Homo sapiens: one gene and its partner. The protein of the gene in region 2 binds, or shares a complex with, the protein of the main gene of each other region. Each region holds a gene or a part of one and is shown on either strand. Other genes may lie near its edges. A codon is read from its position in the direction of its gene.

Evidence for each region.
Region 1: the proteins of DENND1B (region 2) and RAB35 are in contact, whole or in part, in a crystal structure (PDB 3TW8), measured with the Homo sapiens proteins. Residues at the interface, in NP_001182144.1 of Homo sapiens: Met1 (codon at 5,770), Arg4 (codon at 5,761), Glu43, Ser47, Phe51, Val72, Leu73, Thr74, Asp75, Ile76, Glu77, Ser78, His211, Glu212, Arg213, Arg214, Gln242, His243, Ile244, Ile246, Leu249, His252, Leu253, Asp255, Tyr256, Cys258, Ala259, Pro260, Met261, Pro262; in NP_006852.1 of Homo sapiens: Lys10 (codon at 4,808), Leu12 (codon at 4,802), Ser17 (codon at 4,787), Ser36, Tyr37, Ile38, Thr39, Thr40, Ile41, Gly42, Val43, Asp44, Phe45, Gln60, Trp62, Thr64, Ala65, Gly66, Arg69, Phe70, Arg71, Thr72, Ile73, Thr74, Ser75, Thr76, Tyr77, Arg79, Gly80, Thr81.

What each region holds. Positions count from the first base shown.
Region 1 is NC_000012.12:120,111,816-120,123,664, forward strand, and holds the start of RAB35 (ras-related protein Rab-35), read right to left. Parts: upstream 4,939-11,849; 5' UTR 4,836-4,938; coding exon 4,784-4,835; intron 1-4,783. UniProt on the Homo sapiens protein: The small GTPases Rab are key regulators of intracellular membrane trafficking, from the formation of transport vesicles to their fusion with membranes.
Region 2 is NC_000001.11:197,769,386-197,782,250, forward strand, and holds the start of DENND1B (DENN domain-containing protein 1B), read right to left. Parts: upstream 6,096-12,865; 5' UTR 5,771-6,095; coding exon 5,754-5,770; intron 5,694-5,753; exon of another isoform or gene 5,263-5,693; coding exon of another isoform or gene 5,102-5,262; intron 3,548-5,101; coding exon 3,483-3,547; intron 1-3,482. UniProt on the Homo sapiens protein: Guanine nucleotide exchange factor (GEF) for RAB35 that acts as a regulator of T-cell receptor (TCR) internalization in TH2 cells. Acts by promoting the exchange of GDP to GTP, converting inactive GDP-bound RAB35 into its active GTP-bound form.

The DNA of each region.
Region 1 (11,849 bases), on a different chromosome or scaffold from region 2:
CTAAATATCCCTGGAAGAGGCTTCCTCGGAAACACAAGCTGCAGCCATTACCCCACACCATCAGTGTCAGGGCAGGAGCAGAGGGCACCCACCAACCTTCACCACAGCCACCCCCGAGGCTGCCCAAGGGCACATCAGCATGACCCCAACCAGTCCAGCCTGTCATTCTTTTTTTTTTTTTTTTAAATGGAGTCTCACTCTGTCGCCCAGGCTGGAGTACGGTGGCGCGATCTTGGCTGCAACCTCCACCTCCCAGATTCAAGCGATTCTCTTGCCTCAGCCTCCGGAGTAGCTGGGATTACAGGCGCCCGCCATCACGCCCAGCTAATTTTTTGTATTGTTTGTAGGGACAGGGTTTCACCACATTGGCCAAGCTGGTCTCGAGCTCCTGACCTCAAGTGATCCGCCTGCCTCGGCCTCCCAAAGTGCTGGGATTATAGGAGTGAGCTACTGCTCCCGGCCTTTTACCCCTGGCTGCTGTATCTGGTCCTCACCACGCAAGCCACACACATGTCTTCCCTTCCTCCTGCTCCTGCCTGGGCTATGGCCCCCTCACTCCTCTCTGCTTCAGTTCAACCTCTTGAAGAGCCCTGACCTTTCAGTGAACTGTTCTCGATATTTTTTTTTTTTTTTGAAACAGGATCTTGCTCTGTTGCTCAGGCTAAAGTGCAGCAGCGTGATCATAGCTCATTGCAGTCTCAACCTCCCAGACTCAAGAGATCCTCCCACCTCAGCCTCCCAAGTAGCTGAGACCACAGGCGTGCACCACCATGCCCTGCTAATTTTCTTCTTTTTGTTGAGACAGGGCCTCCCTATGTTGCCCAGGCTGGTCTCAAACTCTTGGGCTCAAGTGATCCTCCACCTCGGCCTCCCAAAGTGCTGGGATTACAGGTGTGAGCTACCGTGCCTGGACCTTTTTTTTTTTTTGAGACAGTGTCTCATTCTGTCACCCAGGCTGGAGTGCAGTTGTGTGATCCTAACTCCCTGTAACTTTGAACTCCTGGGTTAAAACAATCTTCCTGTCTCAGCCTCCCACATAGCTGGGACTATAGATGTGCACCACCACGCCCAACTGATTTTTTTTTTTTTTTTGAGATGAAGTCTCGCTCTTGTCCCCCAGGCTGGAGTACAGTGGCACGATCTCGGCTCACTGCAACATCCGCCTCCTGGGTTCAAATGATTCTCCTGCCTCAGCCTCCCGAGTAGCTGGGATTACAGGTGCGTACCACCACACCCAACTAATTTTTTGTGTTTTAAGTAGGGACAGGGTTTCACCATGTTGGCCAGGCTGGTCTCGAATTCCTGACCTCAGGTGATCTGCCCACCTCGGCCTCCCAAAGTGCTGGGATTACAGGTGTGAGCCACTGTGCCCGGCCTTTTTTTTTTTTTTTTTTTAAGAGATGGGGTCTCGCTATCACTATGTTGCTCTCACTATGGTCTCGAGTTCAAGTGTTCCTCCCGCCTCATCCTCCCAAAGCACTAGGACAAACTACTGCCCCCAGCCATGTTCTCAATTTTAAACCTGCCTCAGCCACCACCTCACTGTATAACCTCACACAAGTCACGCCCCCTCTCTGAGCCTCAATTTACTCATCTGTCAAGTGAAGGGCTAACTCCATCTCCAAATGAGGATGGCTGGCCTGAGGGATGCAGACGACATGCTGTTACAAATCAAAGCCAGTGTCAGAGAGTATAAGGGAAAGTATAGAAAATACAGAACTGGCCGGGCGCGGTGGCTCACGCCTGTAATCCCAGCACTTTGGGAGGCCGAGGCGGGCGGATCACGAGGTCAGGAGATAGAGACCATACTGGCTAAAATGGTGAAACCCTGTCTCTACTAAAAATACAAAAGATTAGCCGGGCATGGTGGTGGGCACCTGTAGTCCCACCTACTCGGGAGGCTGAGGCAGGAGAATGGCGTGAACCGGGGAGGTGGAGCCGGCAGTGAGCCGAGATCGCGCCACTGCACTCCAGCCTGGGCGACAGAGCGAGACTCCGTCTCAAAAAAAAAAAAAAGGAAAAAAAGAAAATATAGAACCTCCGGCATAACGAAGGGATGCAGAGATTGAGGGAATCCATTGCAGAAGCATCCACAATGTGCAGAGTGGGCAGAACTCTAGATTTATGAAGAAAGAAACCAGCATTCATGGAGGGCCTATTGTTTGCCAGCCCTGACATGAGCTGCTCGCACACGTATTAGCACTGAGATGCAGTGGCTCCCGGCTTTGCCCCTGCTGAGCTATGTGATTTGGGGCAAGTAAGTCACCTCCTCTGAGCCTCAGTTTCCTTTTTTTTAAGACGGAGTTTCATTCTTGTCGCCCAGGCTGGAGTGCAATAGTGCGATCTTGGTTCACTGCAACTTCCGCCTACCAGGTTCAAGCGATTCTCCTGCCTCAGTCTCCCAAGTAGCTGGGATTACAGGCACATTCCACCATGCCCGGCTACTTTTGTATTTTTAGTAGAGACGAGGTTTCATCATGTTGCCCAAGTTGGTCTCAAACTCCTGTCTTCAGGTGATCTGCCCGCCTTGGCCTCCCAAAGTGATGGGATTACAGGCGTGAGCCACCGCGCCCGGCCTTAAGCCTTAGTTTCCTTATTTGACAAATCACACAGGGGGCGGGTGAGAATAAGCGTCTGTGAAATCGTTCAACATATCTTAAGGAGGCATTCACACAAGGAGCCCAGTTCAGGGGAGTGTGTAATGTCAGTCTCTGGGCTCAGCTGCCAAAGCTTAGTCTGGACTTCCATGGCTACCATCTCCCAGCTTTGAGGATCTCAATGTCGGGAGAAATCAAAGAGCACAGCATCCATCTCCTCTGCACAACCTACGCCTACATGGCTGACCTAGGAGCTAGACCACATAAATCTCGACCCAATGAGTCTTCTCCCACACCTGACTTCGGAGAGAAAAATCAATTCATCACACAAAATGTACTGTGAGAAAGCGGGCCAAACCCATCCCCTGGGCTTTACAGAGGAGAAGAGCCAACAAGCTGCATCTTCCTGCTGAGTTTAGGCTTTTCACTGTTGGATATCAACGCAGAGGTCCAGATGTCTTGCAGAGGGATAAAGGCTCCTGACCACGGCGGGCTGTCACTCCAAAAAGAGAGAAATGGCCCCAGTGCCAGTCCCTCAGAACCCAGGCCAGGGCTGCAAGGAAATCATGTAAAGGAAGAAGCCTCAAGACCCTGAAGAATACCAAAGGCCATCTCCAAGAGAACACTCCAGAGCTTGCCTGGTTTCCCTTCATTCAAACCATAACCAGTCAGTACTCCACCTTTCTACCTCCTTCCCCAACCTCAGTTACTCTTCCATCTCCCTGGTTAGCCCCCAGCTTTCCCCCTTACCTCTCCCCTCCTCCAGCAACCACGGAAACCTCAGCCATCCTTCACCTGATCCAAACCACCAACCACATCTCCATCCAGCTTTAAAAGGGAGGCCAAAACCACCCACTTCCCTGACCTAGCTCTGACATCGCTACCCAACACTCCTACATCCCAAGTCATACCGCTCACTTGATTTGATCCCCTTTCCTTAACAGTCCATGGGCTCTACCACCAGCCTGGCCTCTGCCTCCAATCATAAGACATCCCTCCCCACACTCAGCTCAGGTCTGGTCTACAAACTGAGCATGCTCCCAAGACTCTTTCATGAACATCATATAACCCCAGCACCTCAGTTTCGCTCCCATAAACCTTCTGGGGCCTGCCTTCCTGACCTCTTGGTCACTCCATAAACCTGCTCACCTGCCACACTCCAAACAGCTCTAAAACCCTCCACCTTTTCCCAGAAACCAGTCTACCTTTTCGAAGGACACTTAATATTCATTAATTCCTTCTGCAAATATGTCTTAAGCATGTACTGGGTGCCAGGCACTGTTCTAGGCACTGGAGCTAGAGCAGTGATCAGAGCTAGGAGCCCTCAAGCAGTGTGTGTGTGTGGCCAAAGCACTTTTATAATTTTGGCTGTCCCATCCCCAGGACCCCTCTGTATATAGTAGTGTAACAGCAAACAGTGACAACTCACTATGTGCCAGGAGCTGTGAGCAACACTGCAGAATCTCACTTAATACTCACATCAACCCCATAAGGCAGATCCAACTATCATTCCATCTTACAGATGAGGAAACTGAACCACGCAGGGATATAATAATTCAGCAGGAATATGCCAGACCCTGTGCAAAGCCCTTTATCCGACTTACCTCATTTAAACCTCACGGCAATCCCATGAGGCAGGTTCTGAGAACGTCCTCATTTTAGATGGGAAGAAACTGACGCTTATAAAGGATACTGATGATAATGACAATAGTGAACATTTACTTCGAGCTTACTTTACCGGGTAGGGCGCTACGCACTTTTCCTACTTTATCCCATCGAATCCTCACACCACCCAGCAAGGCACATCCCCACTTCTCAGATGAGGGAACTGAGGCTCAGGACGGCGAAGCAACTTGCCCAAGGTCAGCGCGAGGCAGGTGGTAGTCCTGAGACTCGAACCCACGTCTCTCCAACTCCAGAGATCGCGCGACTTGACCAAGGTCACACGTGAGGCAGGAACAGGCGCGATGACTGGACCCGGCGCGCTTGGCCCCTCCGCCCCGCGCCCCAACCTCCCCTCGGCGCGGTCCGGAGCCCCTCGGCGCACCCCTGGGGCCCAGACCGCCGGGCTGCCCCGCCCGCCCGCCCCGCACGGGCCGGCACCTCCCCGCCCGCCTGCCGCCCCGAGGCCCCCGCGGGCCGCGCCCGGCAGGGCCCGCGCCGCCTCCGGCCGCTGCGGCCCTCACCGCTGTCGCCGATGATGAGCAGCTTGAAGAGGTGGTCGTAGTCCCGGGCCATGGCGGGCGGGGGCGGTGCGCGCGGGCGGGCGGGGTCGGTACTGGCCTCGCGATCCGCAGCTCCCTTCGGGCTGCTCCGGCAGCGGCGGATCCACTTCCCGAACAAACAGCCGGAACTGACAGAAACACCTCCCTCCGCTCCCCCTCCTCCTCCTCAGCAGCCGCCGCCGCTACCACCGCCTCCCTCCTTCCCGCCCCGCCCCACCACTGCGCAGGCGCAGCGTCTGGCACCGCCTTGCGCAGCCGCAGCCTGAGCCGGCCGCGCCCGGGTCGCGCACGCGCCCTGACGGAGTCCCAGCAAGCGCGGGCCCGTCTTCCTCGCGTCTCCTCGGGGAGCGTCGTCGCCGCCACCCTGGGCGCTGAGAGCTTGCGGAGCCGAGCCGCTGTCGAGTCCCAGCGGAAAGAAGCCCAAGGTGCCGGAGAAGCCCGGTCGTGGACGTTGTTGCTCCCTCATCTTCGAGACCCGCACGCCCTGCGGAGAGGAAATGACAGGCACGCCGCGACCGTGGGGCGGGGCTCGCACGAGCTCCGGGTTTCCAGAGGCAGGGGCCGGGGCCGTAGAAGGCAGAGTCGCGCGGGGAAGGCCCGGTACCCCGCCCCTTCCGCACCGACCCCTCCCCCGCGGAGCTGGCCCCGGCCCCGGGCCTGTGGAGTGGACGCCGAGGGCGGCGGGCGGCTTCCGAGTTGGACAGAACGGGAGCTGCCGGCGGGAGCAGAGCTGCGAGGAGGTGGCCTTTGAGGGCAGCGCGGGGTCGAAATCCCATCCCAGCGCTGTGACCTCTTGGAGCCCACATTGCCTCTTTGGTGGAGGGGAGGGAGTGGTCCAGCTCCGAGCCGAGCCTGGGAGCTGAATGACCCAGTGTGCAAGGCGCACCTCGGAGACCGAAAGCAACCGCTCCCCCGGCTTCAATTTCACACCACCTGCAGATACACGTCTCAGAATCTGCGGCTAGGAAGACCTGGGCCGCCAGAAGCTAAACGTGTGCATTTTGTCATCAGCCCCGGTTTCTCGTTTTAGAGTGAGTTCCCACCTGCCCTACCTAAACTGACCTGAAACGGAAAGTTGTATGCCCCCACGACCATCCTCACTGCAGAACTGCAGAGGGTTTTAAGCTCCTTATTACCTGTTTCTTATAATCCTGTCCCTTTCCAGGCGAGTATTTATCGGATAGTTCTACTTGTTTTATCAAACTTCCTTTTCTTTTGACTTTATAAAAAGCAATGCCGGGAGGCTGAGGCGGGAGAATCGCTTGAACCCGGGAGGCGGAGGTTGCAGTGAGCTGAGATCTCGCCATTGCACTCCATTCTGGGCAACAAGAGCGAAACTCCGTCTCAAAAAAAAAAAACAATGTTCGTCCTTAAAATTATGTGCAGAAGTTTACTGAAAAGTACAAGTTACTATTTTTCCTTCTGAAGCACTCCTCACAGGTAACCCCTGTTAGTTTCACAGGTAACCTTAAAATGCTTAACACATATTTGTTGAATGAATAAGTGCCCCCCAGTGAATTTCCTTTGCCTGTACAAACATATATGTACATACCTTGCTTTTTCTATTTAACAGTACACTTTTATCATTTAACATCTGCGTGGTATGGTACTCCATCCGATAACCATCGGATGTACTATTATTTAACCACTCCGCTATTAATAGACATTCATGCTGTTTATATTTTTTGGTTATAATAAACATTGTTGCAGGCGGGATCATTGAACAACACATGGAGTGTCTGACTCAAGCCTTGAGTTGTTTTTCCGGGAGCTGAGAATCAGTGTGGTGATATCGAAATAACATGAGCTTGGAATCTGAAGGTACTGGCTAGGGAGAAGAGCTGCTCATGTGCTCCCGATAGAAAGTCCCCCTTGGTCGGGAAGGTTAGGGCCATCCTCTGACTCAGCAGTTTTAGGAAATAGAGGGGGAGAAGGAAGGTATGTACCTTCCTTCCACCAGGGAGGCACGCCCAGCCCTAACCAGCCAGCGAGGCAGTAGGTCCTCCTAGCTCATCTTCACAACCTGGGCTGGTGTCGGGAAGACTTTCGTTCCAATGCTAGCTTTGGAATCCTGGCCTCCATCCCTTAAAAGCTTTGTGATCTTAGGTAAGTCACATCACACTATCTCAAAGCCCCCGTTTCCTCACAGAATGGTTGTTTTAGAGTTATGTTTGTAAATTACCTGGCACATGTAGGCATGTGACAGACTGTAACCAATGTTACTCAAGGTCATTTTGCACTGATTCATACTTTGAGCCATTTCCTACTGTAGACTCTAGCACACATTTTCAAGGCAGCTTCCTGATAATAAGGCTGTAGGATATTTTTGGGAAATAAATCCAAATTGGCCATTAAAACCAGATTCCTGACTTTGCCTGCATGTGTCATCTGGAAAGCAATCGGCATAAATTCCTTCATTTCTTTGGTAACTATTTAATGAGTGTTTATGTGCCACGGATTGCAGAGGTTATAAGAAGAGAGCCTTAGGCCGGGCGCTGTGGCTCACACCCATAATCCCAGCACTTTGGGAGGCTGAGGCGGGAGGATCACGAGGTCAGGAGTTCAAGACCAGCCTGGCCAAGATGGTGAAACCCCATCTCTACTAAAAATAAAAAAAATTAGCCGGGCACGATGGCAGGCGCCGGTAATCCCAGCTACTCGGGAGGCTAAGGCAGGAGAATCGCTTGAACCCGGGTGGCAGAGGTTGCCGAGATTGCACCACTGCACTCCAGCCTAGGCGACAGAGCAAGACTCCGTCTTAAAAAAAAAAAAAAAAAAAAAGGAACAGAGCCTTTTCTCACCAGTTCACAGCCTCATCAAGAGTTAAGACATACTCATGAGGAAATTGAAAGTATAAGACAATACAGTAGATAGAAAAGCTGTCAGATATGCAGTCTAGACTTCAGAGGAGGAAAGCTATAGCTTTTAGTTAGAATGATGGGGAGAAGATTTTATCATAAAGATGTCATGATGGCACTGGAATAGGAGAGCTTTGAGTGTCTATTTAGACAGTCCCTGTCACAGTCTATGAGAATCATCATTTGGCTTGGAGGGGAATTCCCTGCAGGCCAGGGTATGTGCCTGGCATCTCAAAATGAATCAGCACATTTTCTTCTGGAAACATTGTTAGACATTTATTTAAACTACAGTTCAGTGATGAGTTATGTTAAGCTTTCTTTCTCCTTCTCACTGTATACATATGTAAACTTGTGTGACCTAAAGGATCAGTGTGTCCAGTAATGGGAAACTTTGTTCCACTGCTCTGAACAGCTAACTTACAGATGAACTTTTGCAACACCACCTGTTTGCACATTAGAAACTATTAATACGATGAGGAGGCATTGAAAGTTTTTGAGCAAAGAGGCAATCTCAAAATATTTTAGTGAAGTAATCTGGCAGGGTGCAGGATGGATTTCAGCTGCAGAGCTTTAAAGGTTATTGCTGAAGCCTGGGTGTAAGGTAACAGCAGGGACAGATGCAAAAGACAATAAGCAAACTTATAAACTAGACAAAGCAGCTTCCAAAAAAAAAAATCACGTAATTTACCTGGTAACTGGATTCATCCTTAATTCAGTAAATATTAAGTGGCCGGGTGCAGTGGCTCACGCCTGTAATCCCAGCACTTTGGGAGGCCGAGGCGGGTGGATCATGAGGTCAGAAGATCAAGACCATCCTGGCTAACATGGTGAAACCCCATCTCTACTAAAAATACAAAAGAATTAGCTGGGTGTGGTGGCACACGCCCGTAGTCCCAGCTACTCGGGAGGCTGAGGCAGGAGAATCACTTGAACCTGGGAGGTGGAGGTTGCAGTGAGCCAAGATCGCATCATTGCACTCCAGCCTGGGTGACAGAGCGAGACTCCATCTCAAAAAAAAAAAAAAAAAAAAATTTGCACAGTTACTAGGTGTTAGGCACTGTAGTGGGCACAGAGGCTAGAACATGAACAAAACAAAGCTCCTGTCCTCACGGAGTTTACAGTTTAGTGGGGAACAAGTCATTCACTCATTCAACAAATACTTGAGGGCCTACTATGCCAGACATTGATCTACGAGCTGAGGATTCAGCAGTAAGTAAAATTTTAAAATCCCAGCTTTCATAGAGCTTATATTCTGATAGAGAATACAGGCACCAAGTATGTCCAAGGAGAAAAGTAAAGCAGGGAGCACGCTGAGGTTTGCAGAAGCAGGCAGTGGAGCCACAGAGGTGGCAGGAAGTTTGGCAGTGGATGACAAGAGAAACAATGCTTGGTGGTGAGAGCAGTGGGGCTCATGAAGTATTTTTCAGGATAGTGGAAGCAGAGGATTAGCAGCCAGGAAATAATAAGGAGTGAATATTTGGAGGGAAGATGAGCTAAGGGCGCTTCAAAGAGCTTTGGGAAGTAAAGTGTCACCAACCAGAAGGCTAAGTGGGTAAAGGAGAGGGGGACCTCAGGCCCTCAAGGGTAGCAGTGTCAGGGATGAAGATCAGTGCAGTGGAGGTTGGAGGGACCTGTGAAATCCATTATTTCAGACAGCAACATGGACTTCAAAGCTGCTGAGTGCTAGGTAGCAAGGGAGGGAACGTGTGCTGTGATCATCCAGGAAGGAAGCAGTGGGTGGTGAATCAGAACTCAGAGAAGGCAGGTAAACTGACCGACAGGGACTTTAAATTAGGAGCAAGATGGGGACCACTCAGCATACTGGTCCAAGAGGGAAGGAAGAGAGGATATGATATGATGCCTGGTGTCTCCCTCTGATGGAAGTGGAAACGGGCCCTTTCTCCCACACCTGCAAGCCTGATGCCACACCAAGAGACTTGGCAGTGGGCCTTGCCCTGCCCTGATGTAGCCCCCAGAAATCAAGTGAATGTAAGTTCCATGATTCCAGGGACCATCTCTTTATCTGTATCCTCTGGAGACCCAGTGCCTGGTAGGTGCTTGATACCTGTTGAATTAAAGTGAAGCCACACACACAGTGTGAGAGTTGGACAGAATGTCAGATACAATTAGTTGAACCCTCTCTTGAGTTCACTTTTTGGGGTGTGGGCCAAACTTGGGGTCTAACTCAGGGTCAGCTTCTTCCCCTGACTCCAAACCGTTTAGCAGGAATTTTCTCACTCAACCTTTATATTATTAAATCAGTGGTTTTGCAAGTGTAGTCTGAGGACCCGCAGGGCTCCCTAAGACCTTTTCAAAGGATCTTCAGAGTCAAAACATGTTCACAATACTAAGATGTGATTTGCCTTTTTCACTTTCATTTGCTTATGACTGTACAGTGTTTGCCAGAGCCTACATGACATGTGATACAACAGACCAAATGCAGAGCTGACATGCGAATCCAGACATTAGAAACCTAAAAAAATGTGGAACAATGCCACTTGAACAGTTTTGCTTTGTTGTTGTTGTTTGTTTTTGAGACTGAGTCTCTCTCTTGCCCAAGCTGGGAGTGCAGTGGTACGATCATGGCTCACTGCAGCCTTGACCTCCTGGACTGAAGTGAACCTCCCACCTCAGCTTCCTGAGTAGCTGGGACTGCAGGTGTACACACCACCACACCACTATGCCTGGCTTTTTTTTTTTCTTTTGAGACAGAGTCTTGCTCTGTCACTCAGGTGGGAGCTGGAGTGCTGTGGCATGATCTCGGCTCACTGCATCCTCCACCTCCTGGGTTCAAGTAATTCTCCTGCCTCAGCCTCCCGAGTAGCTGGGATTACAGGTATATGCCACCATGCCCAGCTAATATTTATGTTGTTTAAGTAGAGACGGGGTTTTGCCATGTTGGTCAGGCTGGTCTCAAACTCCTGACCTCAGGTGATCTACCCACCTCAGCCTCTGAAAGTGCTGGGATTACAGGTGTGAGCCACTGCGTCTGGCTGCTATTTTTTTTTTTTTTAATTTTTAAATTTTTTGTAGAGACAACAGTCTCACTATGTTGCCCAAGCTGGTCTTGAACTCCTGGCCTCAAGCCATCCTCCCACCTCAGCCTCCCAAAGTGTTGGGATTACAGGCATGAGCCACTGTGCCTAGCCTGGTTTTGACTCCTAAGATGCTAAATATCAATAGGTAAGATAGGTATACACAAGAGCTCTTTGGTGTCCTCAAAAAAATTTCAAAATATAAAAGGATCCCGGCTGGGCACAGTGACAAACACCTGTAATCCCAGCACTTCGGAAGGCTGAGGAGGGAGGATGGCTCAAGGCCAGGAGTTCAAGACCAGCCTGGGCAACATAGTGAAACCCTCATCTCTACAAAAAAAATTTAAAAAATTAGCCAGGCTGGGCACGATGGCTCACACGTGTAATCCCAGCACTTTGGGAGGCCAAGGTAGGTGGATTACCTGAGGTCAGGGGTTCAAGACCAGCCTGACCGATATGGTGAAACCCCATCTCTACTAAAAATACAAAAAAAAAAAAAAATTAGCTGGGCATGGTGGCGGGCACCTGTAATCTCAGCTACTCTGGAGGCTGAGGCACAAGAATCACCTGAACCTGGGAGGCAGAGGCTGCGGTGAGCCAAGATCACGCCACTGCACTCCAGCCTGGGCGACAGAGTGAGATTCCATCTCAAAAACAAACAAAATTAGGCAGGTGTGGTGGTGTGTGGCTGTAGTCCTAGCTGCTCAGGAGGCTGAGGCAGGAGGATCACTTGAGCTCAAGAGTTCAAGGCTGCAGTGAGCCATGAGCACACCATTGCACTCCAGCCTGGGCGGCAGAGCAGTACCCTGCATGTAAATAAATAAGGAGTCTTGAGGGCAAAATATTTGCGAAATGCTAGATTGAATCCTGCACCCCAGCTTCCTAGCTCCCTTTTTTGTGGGAACCCAAGTGGTAAGAAAGATCTAATGTAAATACATTCAAAACCCACAGCTTTCTCTTGTGGGACTGCGGGGCACAGCCCTGAGGAATTATCATGCACTAATTGTCCCTGTGACCAGGCCGCCATCTCACTAGAGAAATAGCTCACAGGAGGGAACCTGACAGGGACTGGGGTATCCATTCAGGCACAATCAGGAAGGTCTCACCTAGAAATCCCTCTGAGGCAATCATCCC
Region 2 (12,865 bases):
AAAAAGAAACTTTCTGGCTCTAAATAGAGACATGTAAAGCCAGTGTCTGTCACCCCCAGAGTCACAAACAAAAAAGCAGAGTTCCAACTTCCACTGACAGTCTTATAACCGCAAGAAATCTAAGCCCTCCAATGACACCATTACTGTGAGTGGCAGAAATGAGAAGCAGAAAGCACCTGGATGTTTGACGACTTCTTGTATGAACTATATCGATGTTTGACGACTTCTTGTATGAACTATATCAAGTTTCTCTAGTTTCTCTATTATTTAAACCAATCTTATGTTTGTACTCCAAAGCATCCTAATTTATACATTTTGTTTTCCAATCTATTACTATTTAAGAATTTCACCCATGATCATTTAATGTTAGCAAAAAAAAAATTATCGTACCTTAAACAAGCTGATAATGCACATATCAGAGCCTCATTAAAACAAATAGGTACTAACAGTTAAATATGAGGATTCCAATAACTTTTAAAATATTTTTCATATATTTTTCTATTTAAGATTTAGCTGTAAAGTAGAACATTGATAAAATATTACAGAAACATAAATCTCTCAATTTGGCAAAAAAATTTACTTTTATAGCCCTCTTATAGTTATTGATTTTATTATTTATAGCTACTAATTTATCATTTGTTATTTATTATAGTTACTGATTATAGTTATTACTTGTTAGATCCTAAAATATTAGCCATATTCATACTATTTAAGTCATAATAAAAGAAGAAAGGTTACTGCTGCTTACATGGCTGAGTTTAGTTTTTTAAAATATCTTTAGAATTTTCTGCCATTTAGCCATATAGAATGGATTATTTGCAACCTACAAAGAAGCCAACATTATTTACTTTAACCATTTATCATATTTACAACTTTACCAGGCTAGATATAAACTGTTAAAATACAAATGAAGATGTTTCTAAAAAGTAGTGATTTAAATAACAACAGCAAAAAGACAAGGTGTAATATTAAAGCAGGGCAGAAGTAGAAGATACAAACTGGAATAACTAGCTCATGAAAAGTGGAAAAGAGCAAAAAGAGGAAGAAGGGAGTAAACCACTCAAAAGCCTTTATAAGAAGACCACAATCTCTCTGACACATGCATAGATTGGGTGTTATATAAGGCAAATTGATCTTTTAACAAGATCACTTTAATACACATTTAAAATTAGAGAATCCATATTTTCCAAGTGAAATTAGCCTGTTGTGTGTGTGTGTGTGTATATATATCTATAAATATATATAAAAATATATATCTATAAATATATATCTATAAATATATATCTATAAATATACATATCTATAAATATATATCTATAAATATATAAATATATATCTATAAATATATATAAATATATATATCTATAAATATATATAAATATATATCTATAAATATATAAATATATATCTATAAATATATATATAAATATATATGTAAATATATATCTATAAATATATATAAATATATATCTATAAATATATATCTATAAATATATGTATCTATAAATATATCTATATATCTATATAGATTTTTTTTTTTTTTTGAGACAGAGTCTCACTTGGTCACCAAGGCTGGAGTGTGGTGGTGCTATCTCGGCGCACTGCAACCTCCACAACCCCAGTTCAACTGATTCTCGTGCCTCAGCCTCCCCAGTAGCTGGGATCACAGGCATAGGCCACCATGCCTGCATAATTTTGGTATTTTTAGTAGAGATGGGGTTTCACCATATTGGTCAGGCTGGTCTCGAACTCCTGGCCTCAGATGATCTGTCCACCTCGGCCTCCAAAAGTGCTGGGATTATAGGCGTGAGCCACCGTGCCACGCCTTTACAAGCAATATCAGATGAGCGTTACTTCACGCACCTTCGGTAATGTTGTGGTAGATATTTTTTAGATTAACTTATATCATAAACCACTATAGAATAGAATTAAATTGGAGCTGAAAACATAATGTATCCATTTGAGTATCCATTCTACCTAATATATCCATTCTTCAAAGAGGACCCGGTTGGGGCTCAAAATAATGCAAATGGACAAACTTTACTACATACAGGACAATAAAAGATAACTTCATCAACTAGAAAAGGCTCCCTACAACCTAGGATCACTCCTTGCCAATAGACAAACCTGACCACAGCTGCAGTTCAGATAGACCAGGAGTACAGTAGTAGGGCTGGTGGAGCCAACAATATGTGACTTCATACTAAAATTAGCCATGCCCATTTCACCACAACTGGGTTGGGCTTCTCTATTTTAAGGTGTGCAGCTCCAAATTACTTAAGAGTAGGTAATTGCTGGATAGTTTCTGAAGCTAAAATTGTCAGCAGACTTTCCTCCAAGGCTTTAGGATGGCCAATCAGTCTCCACGAAACCCCTATGCTTAATCATCATGCTATCCAGGGTCTAAGCACACAGCAAGTAAAGACATATACTTTAAGTATCTAGAAAGACATACCATGCAAGAACACATTAAAAGAAAATAGGCAAGAAAAGAATTCCTTATTCTTGTCTGCTAACCCTGCCGCCTACCACACATATGCACAATACACAATATGACAAAAGTGGAGGGAAATGATGAAAATCATGACATTAAAGTATTATGCTCTCATCTTTTCAGGAAATTGTACGGAACTGACAGCTGAAACCCTTCCAAGTAATTTCACACTATCGTTTACCTCCCTGCAAAAGTGCTGTGCTATTGGAGTAAATCCAACAGAAGGGGCTACTCAGTCTGCATTCTGCGTTCTGGAAACATCAGAAGGGAAGTGGTGTAGTTTCCATTGGTACTAGCAGGAGAATGTGCACTAATGTTTAAAAAAAGACACTAAATTTCCAAACATAAATGAAAGAAAATGAAAAGATTCGCCCTTTCACCAAAACTAATGATAACTTTACCAACGAATGGTGAAGCTGAGTTGTAAGTTATATGGGCTTAACAACACACCTGAAATTCAAGCTGCACTGATAACATTCATGATTTTTACAATCCCAGGGCAAAGACTTAACACCTATTTTATTACCAGCAACTTGAGACACTCAATGCAGAATACACATTTAGTAGTATTATTTTCCTATTACTACCATGTTCCAGCAGTCCACAATATTAACACTTGCTTTGACAGATTCAATCAATTATTTTAAGAATTAACAGAACAGGCCAGGCACAGTGGCTCACGCCTGTAATCCCAACAATTTGGGAGGGCAAGGTGGGTGGATCACTTGAGCCCAGGAGTTCAAGACCAGCCTGGGCAACGTGGTGAACCCTGTCTCCACAAAAAAATATACAAAAATTAGCTGAGCATGGTGGTGTGCATTGGTAGCTCCAGCTACTCGGGAGGCTGAGGTGGGAGGATCACCTGAACCCGGGAAGGAGAGGTTGTGGTGAGCCCTGATCATGCCACTGCACAGCCTGAGGAACAGAATGAGATCTTGTCCCAAAAAAAAGAGACCTTGTCAAATAACAGAACACAGAAGACACATACCTTCATTTTCAGAGGCATGACATTTCACTTTCAACACCAAGTCAAAGGTTCTGTCTGGATTTGCCCTAAAAGGAAAAAGTTTAAATTAATTTCCTATGACAAATAAACATCTCCATGAAACTTGTATTTTCTTAATTCTAAAACTAATCTTGTTTTTGTCTCAATACATTTCACGTGACTGTATTACTACAGTATAGTAGAAATAACAATGAAACTGTTTTCTCAATTGAGCAACTTAAAAGAGCTGAGACTTAGGAATTCTGAAACTTGGGGCAAAGCATTTAAACGCTGAGACTGTTCTCCCTTACCTATGAGGTGCCTTGTCCACTTCACAGAATAATAGTGAGGATTATAAATCAAATAACATATGTGCAAGTACTTCATTAAGTACTAAGTGCTACAAAAATGCAAAGTATTGGTTTTATCTTATTGGATCAAATTTAAAAGCCAGAGTGTCCCTAAGTGTCATTATACCCTGCCAACAGAGTTTGACACAGGTTCTCAGGCTGTCTCCAAAGGACTTGCAATATAAGTGTAAATGATGAATACATGGTTCCACCTGCCAAGTTCTAGATCACCATAAAACATTGATAATGCTCCATGAATGTGATACGTTGCATATACTTTTCTTAAAATGTATTTACTGTACTTATGCATATTTAAAGTAGCAAACTATTCATAGCTCTAAGGCTAGCAACATAAAAAGCCTTCTTTTTATCCATTATCTTTGGAGAAACCAGCCATCTGCTTCCATGTTAGATTTTCCCACTAGAAACTGTAAGTTTACTTTGCTTAATTCAGAAGTTATTGACTTTTTTACTAACTTGCCATATTTGCAAAATTTCAAAGCAACATTGGTTAAATTTCAAAAAGTGAACTGAAATATACTGAGACACTTTTTCTTCATAACATTGCTGTTTAAATCTCTCGTTCCATCATAAGGTAAAAGATTAAGTCTGTTACCACAACGGCCAATGTGTTAATATCTCAGTTATTCCTGCTAACAAGACCTTAGTGCCTTTGTACATTGGCTGTATTTAATATGTACTTCCTTCAAGAAACGAATGCCAGCTCTGACTTTAAAAAAAAGCATTTCTTTTTTTGGAAGCTTTTCTTATAAGATATGAATCTGGAAACATAGGAAGTGACAAGACATATAAATTAACATGCAAATATACATTTTTTTAGCCTTTCCGCTATTAACTTGTTTCAATGGGAATAATCTGGGCTCAGATGACTTCCTCCCTCTTAAAACAATTAATGTCAAGAAGCATACTATTTTTACTCACTTACCCTGCCCACCATGATGTCAAACACACTGAAGAAAATAATTCTATTACATAATTTCCCTCTTTCCCTAATATTCTTTAGAATTTCTCTTAGGTGTAAAAGTTAAATATTGACTCAGTTTTACTTCTGTGAAATTCAAACGGCCTTTCACAATAATACAAATATACATGGCATTATTTTAAACTTTTTGAGAAGGAGATAGTAAAGGGTGGGTAAGCGAAGTAAAAAGGAATTCTTTCCAAAGTTAAGTTTCAGAAGAAAAATATAAAACTCATGCCTCTAAGATACCTAGAAACAAAATCACCACCGTTATTAAAATTGCTTTTTACCTAATCTCCTGAGCAAAGTAGTCGTTGATAAATACTTTAGCACACACATAAAAGTACCCTCTAATTGGATACCGTTTTGCAAGAACCATGCATCTACAGTTGCTGCATAAAGAAACACCAGAGACCAATCTAATTTTATAAGCAGAATCATAAGAAAACATCCAAGACAAAAGTAACAAACGGACTTAAGAAAACACCGGTTATATTTAATGCTCAGAGAGCACTCGGAATAATAACCTCTTAACCTCAACGCTGACTCCCTCCCGGACACCACACGCACACAGGCAGCCCCAGGAGAGTCACATCTGACACACTCGGGGGAAGCACGAGAACCCCTCAGCGGCGGTGTCAGGGGCCGCCCGGCCTCCCCTGTCCCCCGAAAGGCGGGCGTCGACAAGGCGCTAGTGGCCTCTCCGGGAGGAGCCGCGCCAACCACGGAGGGCCGGGGACGCAGGGCGGGCAGGCTTTGCGGCCTAGCGCCGTCCCGCCGGCCGGCCAGAGGCTTGGGGGCCGGACCGCACCCCCAGCCCGCCCGGCCAACCTCGGCCGCCCGGGGAGCCGGTTGAGCGCGGAGGCGCGGAGGAGCCGAGCTGGCCTGGGAGGGGCCGCCGAGGGACGCCCGCCCCCGACGCGCCCGGGCCCCCCCACTCACTTGGTCCTGCAGTCCATGGTTACATGTCGGTGTGGGGCTGTCCGTCCGGCCCCCGCGCGCTGGCCTGGAAGCCCGCAGCCCGGCCGCGCGAGGGTCGCGCCGTCCCCGCCCACGCCGGCGGCCACACAGGGAAAGAGGCTGCTCACAGCAGCCGTGGCGGCGGGCCCATGTCGGCTGCGCCCCCGGCACTTCCCCGCCTCCCACCCCACCCACCAGAGCCTTTCTGTGACAGCAGCGGTGGCGTGGCCGCCGCCCCCGTCTCCGCCGGTAGCCGCCACCAAAGCTGAGGCCTCTCAGTTCCTGCGACCGGGGCCGCCCGCTGCGGCTCCTGCACCTTCTTGCAAATCAGGAAGTCGCCGGGAGGGGGAAGGGGCGCGCGGGGACGCGCCCAGCGGCTTCACCTGGGCCGTGCGGCTCGCAAGTCGGAGACTGTGGAGGAGGCGGGGGCCAGGTCCCCGCGCCCGGGCGGCCAGAGGGTGCAGGGGGAGCGCTAGTGCCTGCTGGGATGGCCCACGTACCGCTTTGCCACCTAGCCAGAAAGGCAAGGTGCCCCCTGTGTCCTCAGCATGAACCAAACCGGCTTCCTTTCTGGGTCCAGTCCAGATTCCAGGGCGTCGGGGCTGCAACCCCACAAAGGGCGAAGTACCTGGAAAAGTACCTCGACCTGCAGTGTTTTCCACACACATACACACGGACTTGGGTTCCTTTCATTTCATACTACAAATTCAGAGCTCAAGTTGATGCCCCTGGCTCTTGCGTCACTCCAGCTGTGGCCTGCTTACAGCTCTCTGAAATCCAGAGCTACCCCCTCCTGATTCAGGAATGTTCAGACATGTGCACCTGCTAAATAGCCCTGTCAAGTAGCCAAATGGTAGTGCCCCACTTGTCTGCGCATGTGGGAGGCAGACATTCCTATACCACAGACTGCAGTGATAACCAAGGACTAACTTTTGAACACATGTACATAGTCGCAGGCCTCATAGTCTGGCAGTTTAGGCGAGTTCAGAGAGGGCACCACTGAATAAGCGTGGGAGGGACTGATTTACACAGCCCTAAAGCACATGTGAAGCAGGTTATGTGCACTCTCACCCAGTACTTGTCATAGGTGTGTGATAGATACTTTCATCAGCATTTTACAGATGAAGAAACCAGGGAGTAATGGCAAAGCTGGAGTTCACACCAGGTCTATCTGATGCTGATTATTTACTTCTACCTCATATTGCCTGTCTCCCTCCTCTGCTGTCTCATATTTAGGATCTACTGAGAAGACAGGTAGAAAAGTCTTATGATGGACATTCAAATGACTGTGGAAGGCCAGGCTCTTACACAGAGATCTTCTGGGAAAGGCCTTCTCCCAGCTAACACTGCCACCCTTGACACATAGCCACAGTGTTTCTTCCAAAAGGTGGTTACTTCAGACTTTATTCATGCAGAAGTTAAGATGATGAGAGGAAACCAAATGTGGTATGAATGTAGTGTGAGTCATAAGACATAAAAGTCAGAAAAGGAGTCTTAAGAATTAAAAAACTCAAGAGTCAGAGAACCTGAAGTTGCACTCAGTTATATAACCTTAAACTTTCTTGCCAAAATTGGGTACTACTTGGTCAACAGGATCAGAAATATTGTATAGCCATGGGCCTGTTAGTAAAAAATGAGGACGGGCCATAACTGGGAAACAAACAAACAAAAAAAAAATGTGTTTATCATAAAGTGTTGTCATAGCTTGACTCGGGGTGAGACACTTCAGTTTCTCGGTTCCTACATTTGTAAAATGGGAATTATTACTTGTACATCACATGAGCAGTGTGATGTTCAAGTAAAACAGGTGCTACAAATTTGTATTATCTTTTGAGAAATTATTCTGTGAATTTCAGTTTCACAATTAGGCAAACTATACTACATAAGTTTTCTTTTCCCAAATAAAGATTTTTCTGCATAAGTGACCATACTCCAAAGCCTTGAAAAAAAAAATTCGTAAGCTAAAAGCCACTTCTGCCCCAACTGTTACTGAATTTCTCAAACTTCTCCTTTCATTATAATTAATTATTTCCAAAGAAAGGAACCCTACTTGGGGTGACCATATTGAGGACTTTTTAATTTGGTGTGAGGAGATAATAATACAATTGTTTTCCTCATCCATTGTTGGGATTTTATTTTAAATGACAGTCATACCCTTGAACAGTATAAAATTGTTCTTCATTCCATTTATGTTAAGTACATCGAGGGAAATACTACACATTCGCATCCCAAAGCAAATCTTTTTAAGTGAGCTTTTAGGCTGACCATAATGAAGAGATTTATCTGTTCTGTTATTACTGAAATAAAAGGGATAGGAACATAGGTGTACATGATCTACATGCATGAGGTGTTAAAAAATTAGAAAACAAATATCATACACTTACCTTGGTAATAGCTTTAATGAAATCGATGGTATAACTTTAGTAATACTCATTTCATATAGAACTTCCCATATGACTGATAGAGAAGTGTACAAAGGGCAAACCTTCAAATTAGTCTTAAATCTTCCCAAGATCATATTTCAGCAATGATATTTCCTACTCGACAATTAATATTAACAGTTTTCAGGACCATACCAGTCAAAGAACATAGTCTGTATTGTTGTCAAAGAACATGGTCTTTATTTATTAATTAATTTCTTATTAATTAATTAATTTAGTTAATTTTTTAAATGTTTCAAGACTTAAATGTTGTATGTGGTTTGTAAAGAATATATATTCTGCAGCTTTGGGGTACAGTGTTCTAAATATATGTCCATGATCAAATACGATGATTGTGTTGTTGACATCTTCTATTACTGAATTTGCATCTGCTTGACATAATTCAATTAATGGGAGAGATGAGTTTAAATATCCCAACATGATGGTAGATTTTTCTATTTCAGCCTATAGTTCTTTCAGGTTCTACCTTACACAGTTTGGGGCTGTGTAATAATATACACATCAGTTTATAATTTCTATATCTACCTAATAAATACAACCATTCATCATTATGTTGTTACTTTCTTTACCTCCAATCGTACTTTTGCCTTAGATTCTAAACAGTTTTCTTCTGAATAGTATTTGTCTGATGTTAGGATATCTCTTTTCATCCTTTTACATTCAAACTTTCTAAACCATCATGTTTCAAATTTATCTAAAATTTTTAGTCTTGATTTTTAATCTAGTCTGATCATCTTTAGCTCTTACATCAAACCCCTAGACAATTTGCATGTATTAAAACTGTTGATAAATTTAGGCTGGGCGCAGTGGCTCATGCCTGTCATCCCATCACTTTGGGAGGCTAAGGCGGGTAGATTAGTTGAGGCCAGGAGTTCAAGACCAGCCTGGCCAACTTGGTGAAACCCTGTCTGCTAAAAATACAAAAATTAGCTGGGTGTGGTGGGTGGTGCAAGCCTGTAGTCCCAGATAATAAGGAGGCTGAGGCTTCAGAATCACTTGAACCTGGGAGGCAGAGGTTGCAGTGAGCCAAGATCATGCCGCTGCATTGCAGCCTGGTTGACAGAGTGAGACACTGTCTAAAAAAAATTAAAAAAAAAAAAGAGAGAAAAATGCTGATAAATTTAAATCTATTTCTGCCATCTAATTTTGTACTTCCCGTTTGTTTCTTCTGATCTGTTTTTTTCTTTCACTTTTGCATTCTTTAGGATTACTATTTATGCTTTCATTTCTGCCCCCACCTCTTCTAGTTTGGAAGTTATTTACTCTGTTTCTATTCATTTAGGAGTTATCCTAGAAATTTTAATAGGTACATTTTAACTGATTAAAGCCAGAGTTCACAAGGATATCCACCCTCTCTCAAACAATACAAGAACCTCTAAAACCCCCTCAAAACTAAAATCCCCCCAAAAATGCATTATGAATGTTGTTTTATACAGTCCATGTTTGTTTAGATTTACTCAGAACTTTACCATTCTTTTGTATTTTCATTTTAGATCTTCTGTGTAGGATCACTTTCCTTCTGCCTAAAATTCTTTCCCTTTTTGTTTGAGTTGGAATGTATTTATTTATCCCTCACTCTTGAAAAATATTTTCACTGATGAAGAATTCAAAGTTTACTATTATTTCTTTCTGCATGTTATCAATATCATTACACTGTCTTCTAAGTTCCCTAATAACAATTGGAACTTTGAAAGTAATCTTAAAATGTCATCTGTTTTTTCTCTCTGACTGCATTTATGATGTTTCATTTTTGTCTTTAGTTTTCTATAGTTTCACTGTGAAGTATCTAGGTGTAGATTTTTATTCATCCATGTTTCTTGGTTTCTTTAATTTTCTTGACTCTGGATTGGTGACTTTCATCAGTTCTGGAAAATTCTGGACTCCTTTCTTTCCATTCCTTCTGGGACTCTGATAACACATGTGTTATTCTACCCTCCATGTTTGTCAAACATCTCTTTTATAGTATGTCTCTCTTTATCTGTCTACGCTGTATTCTGGAAAATTTCAAAAATATTCTGTTCACTAATTCTTTCTTCAGCTTTGTCTCATTTTCTGTCAAAGTCACCCATTTAGTTTTTAATTTATATTATTTTTATTTCTAAAGTTCTGTTTGGTTATTTTCCAAATCTGTATTCTCTTAACTCATATTTTCAGCATCTCTTTAATTTATTAAAAATATTTAATATATATACTTTAAATTCTATTTCTAAAAATTCCAATATCTGAAGCATTTGTGGGTCTGCTTCTACTAACTGATCTTTTTTCTACTTGTTCATACTTATGGTCTCTTGATTTCTTCTATGTATGTGATTTCTTTTTATGTTATGTGATCCTTAGAACTTTATATATAGAAATTGAGTGACAGCTGAAATGAAAATGAGTTCTCTGGAGAAGATATTAATTTACTGCTGGTAGATGCTTGGGATCACTAGCAATTCAGAAACATAAACACTAAATTCTCAGCTTGAAATTCTTCAGACCATTCATGTGAGACCTGGTTTGTAGCTATGAATCCTCTGGGAAGCTTTTTTCCCCTTAACTATGCTCCATTGTTTGAGACAATTGTCCTTGAATACCTTTGGGGTGTATCAGCTTTATGAAGAGTATCCTGTTGGATTTCCCACATTAGGAAGGGTCTGAAGACCCATAAGACCATGATAACAGTTCATGGTCTTCCAGTTCATCCAGCTTAGGAAAAACCCTAAAGATGAAGATGAAAGGTGGCTTTTCTTTTTTTTTTTTTTTTTGAGATGGAGTCTCGCTCTGTCGCCAGGCTGGAGTGCAGTGGCGTGATCTTGGCTCACTGCAACCTCCACCTCCTGGGTTCAAGCAATTCTCCTGCCTCAGCCTCCCGAGTAGCTGGAACTACAGGCACCTGCCATCACGCCTAGCTAATTTTTGTATTTTTAGTAGAGGCAGGGTTTCACCATGTTGGTCAGGACGGTCTCCATCTCTTGACCTCGTGATCCACCCACCTCGGCCTCCCAAAGTGCTGGGATTACAGAGAGAGGTGGCTCTTGTAGCTACTTTTATTTGTCCCCCATCCTCCACCCCTAAGTATTCTCACTTGATTGCCTGCTCTTCAATGCATTGCAAGCTTTTAAAAATACTTAATTCTGAATTTTTAGTTGATTTTCATGCAAGTTTTGATCAGACTATAATGGATAATTACTTGGTTCTGACTATAGTGTCATGTAAAATGGACTAATTGCAACTTTTTAATCCACCTAATAAGGTCCACTTTCCTCAAACCAGGTCCAAAAAGTCCCCAACTTATATATCCCTATATATTAATGGTGTAGAGAAACCCAAGTTCAGGGCTTTTAGTGAGCCAACTGCCCTGATTTCCAGTGTACTATGACAATTAGAAAGGTAACTCCTGGCTTCCCAACCCCAACCACTTATTCATTGAATCCTTGTAGTAATATGCCTTAAACAAAAGTGAAGAGTTACTGATACCCAGGACTACTAAAGTTGACAGCTCCTTTCCCTTCTGAATGCGAAATAATAAACACTATTGTAAACTCTAGAATGGTATTTTTAAAAATAATAATACTATTAATAATGCTTCAGGTTCAGTATAAATTAACTCGACTAGACTCATAAGCCTCACCAATGTATATGAAGATTTTGAGTTCCAAACAATTAACTTAGAAATGAATTTTTTGAGGCAAGCATCTCATGAGTTGTAGCTAACATGTATCCAAGTCAGGCATTTCCTAGACTAACTCTGCACAACCTCTTATTACTATTCTTAGGTGAAATTTATTAATAGTATTACCACCTTCATTTATTATAGAAGAAAAGTTATAAAGTATTTAACAAACTGAATTTATTGAAGCTCTTAGGAAACTATCTTTAAATTATTTTATCAGGACCTGCCTTTTAATATTGACTGAGATAGTGTTGTTAAGGAAAACATCCTCCTGGCATGTTGTCCTTTTTATACTTAGCAGCAATATCATGAATTTCAATCTGAAGGTAAAATCTCCCTCAACAAGACATGTGAAATACTTTTAAAATAAAGAGAAGATGGAGGTGGGGATTCGGGATCAATATCTTCCCTGAAAGTTTGCCTTTCTGAGTTGTTTCACACCTCAAAGCTCATAGAGTTAGCATTCTATGTTGATTTAAAATCCAGTTTAATAAAAATGTTGTCTTCCAGTTTGTGGACAAAAGAACTCAGATAAATTTTGACACCTTTACTACCAAATCTGAACATATCCAAATATTTCTAAAATTCAATGGGTCGATGATGATATTTGTATATCTTGCTGTTAAACTTTTAGTAAGAAAATACAGTAAAATTCTCAAAAATAATACAGCACAGCAAAAGATCTTCTTCTGCCTTTTTCAGGTGATTTGCCAAAAATTGTAAATAAATTTTCTTACCTCTGACCAGTTTCTGCTTGTTCTCCCTTATCTTTGTTCCTCAATCTGCCAGACATTGTAGAACTTAAAACAGTCCTTGGAGTTCAGAACAAAGAATAATTGAAGCAGAGTGTCACCAACAGATGGTAATCAGTGGAGTCAAATTTTCTTCAGAGATTCTTTGAGGATTCTCCTTTGGACTTCAAGAAAGAGTGCTGTGTTTGTGTAACCATGTGGCATTGCATGGGAAATAATTTCCCAACCCCACCTACAAGATACTCC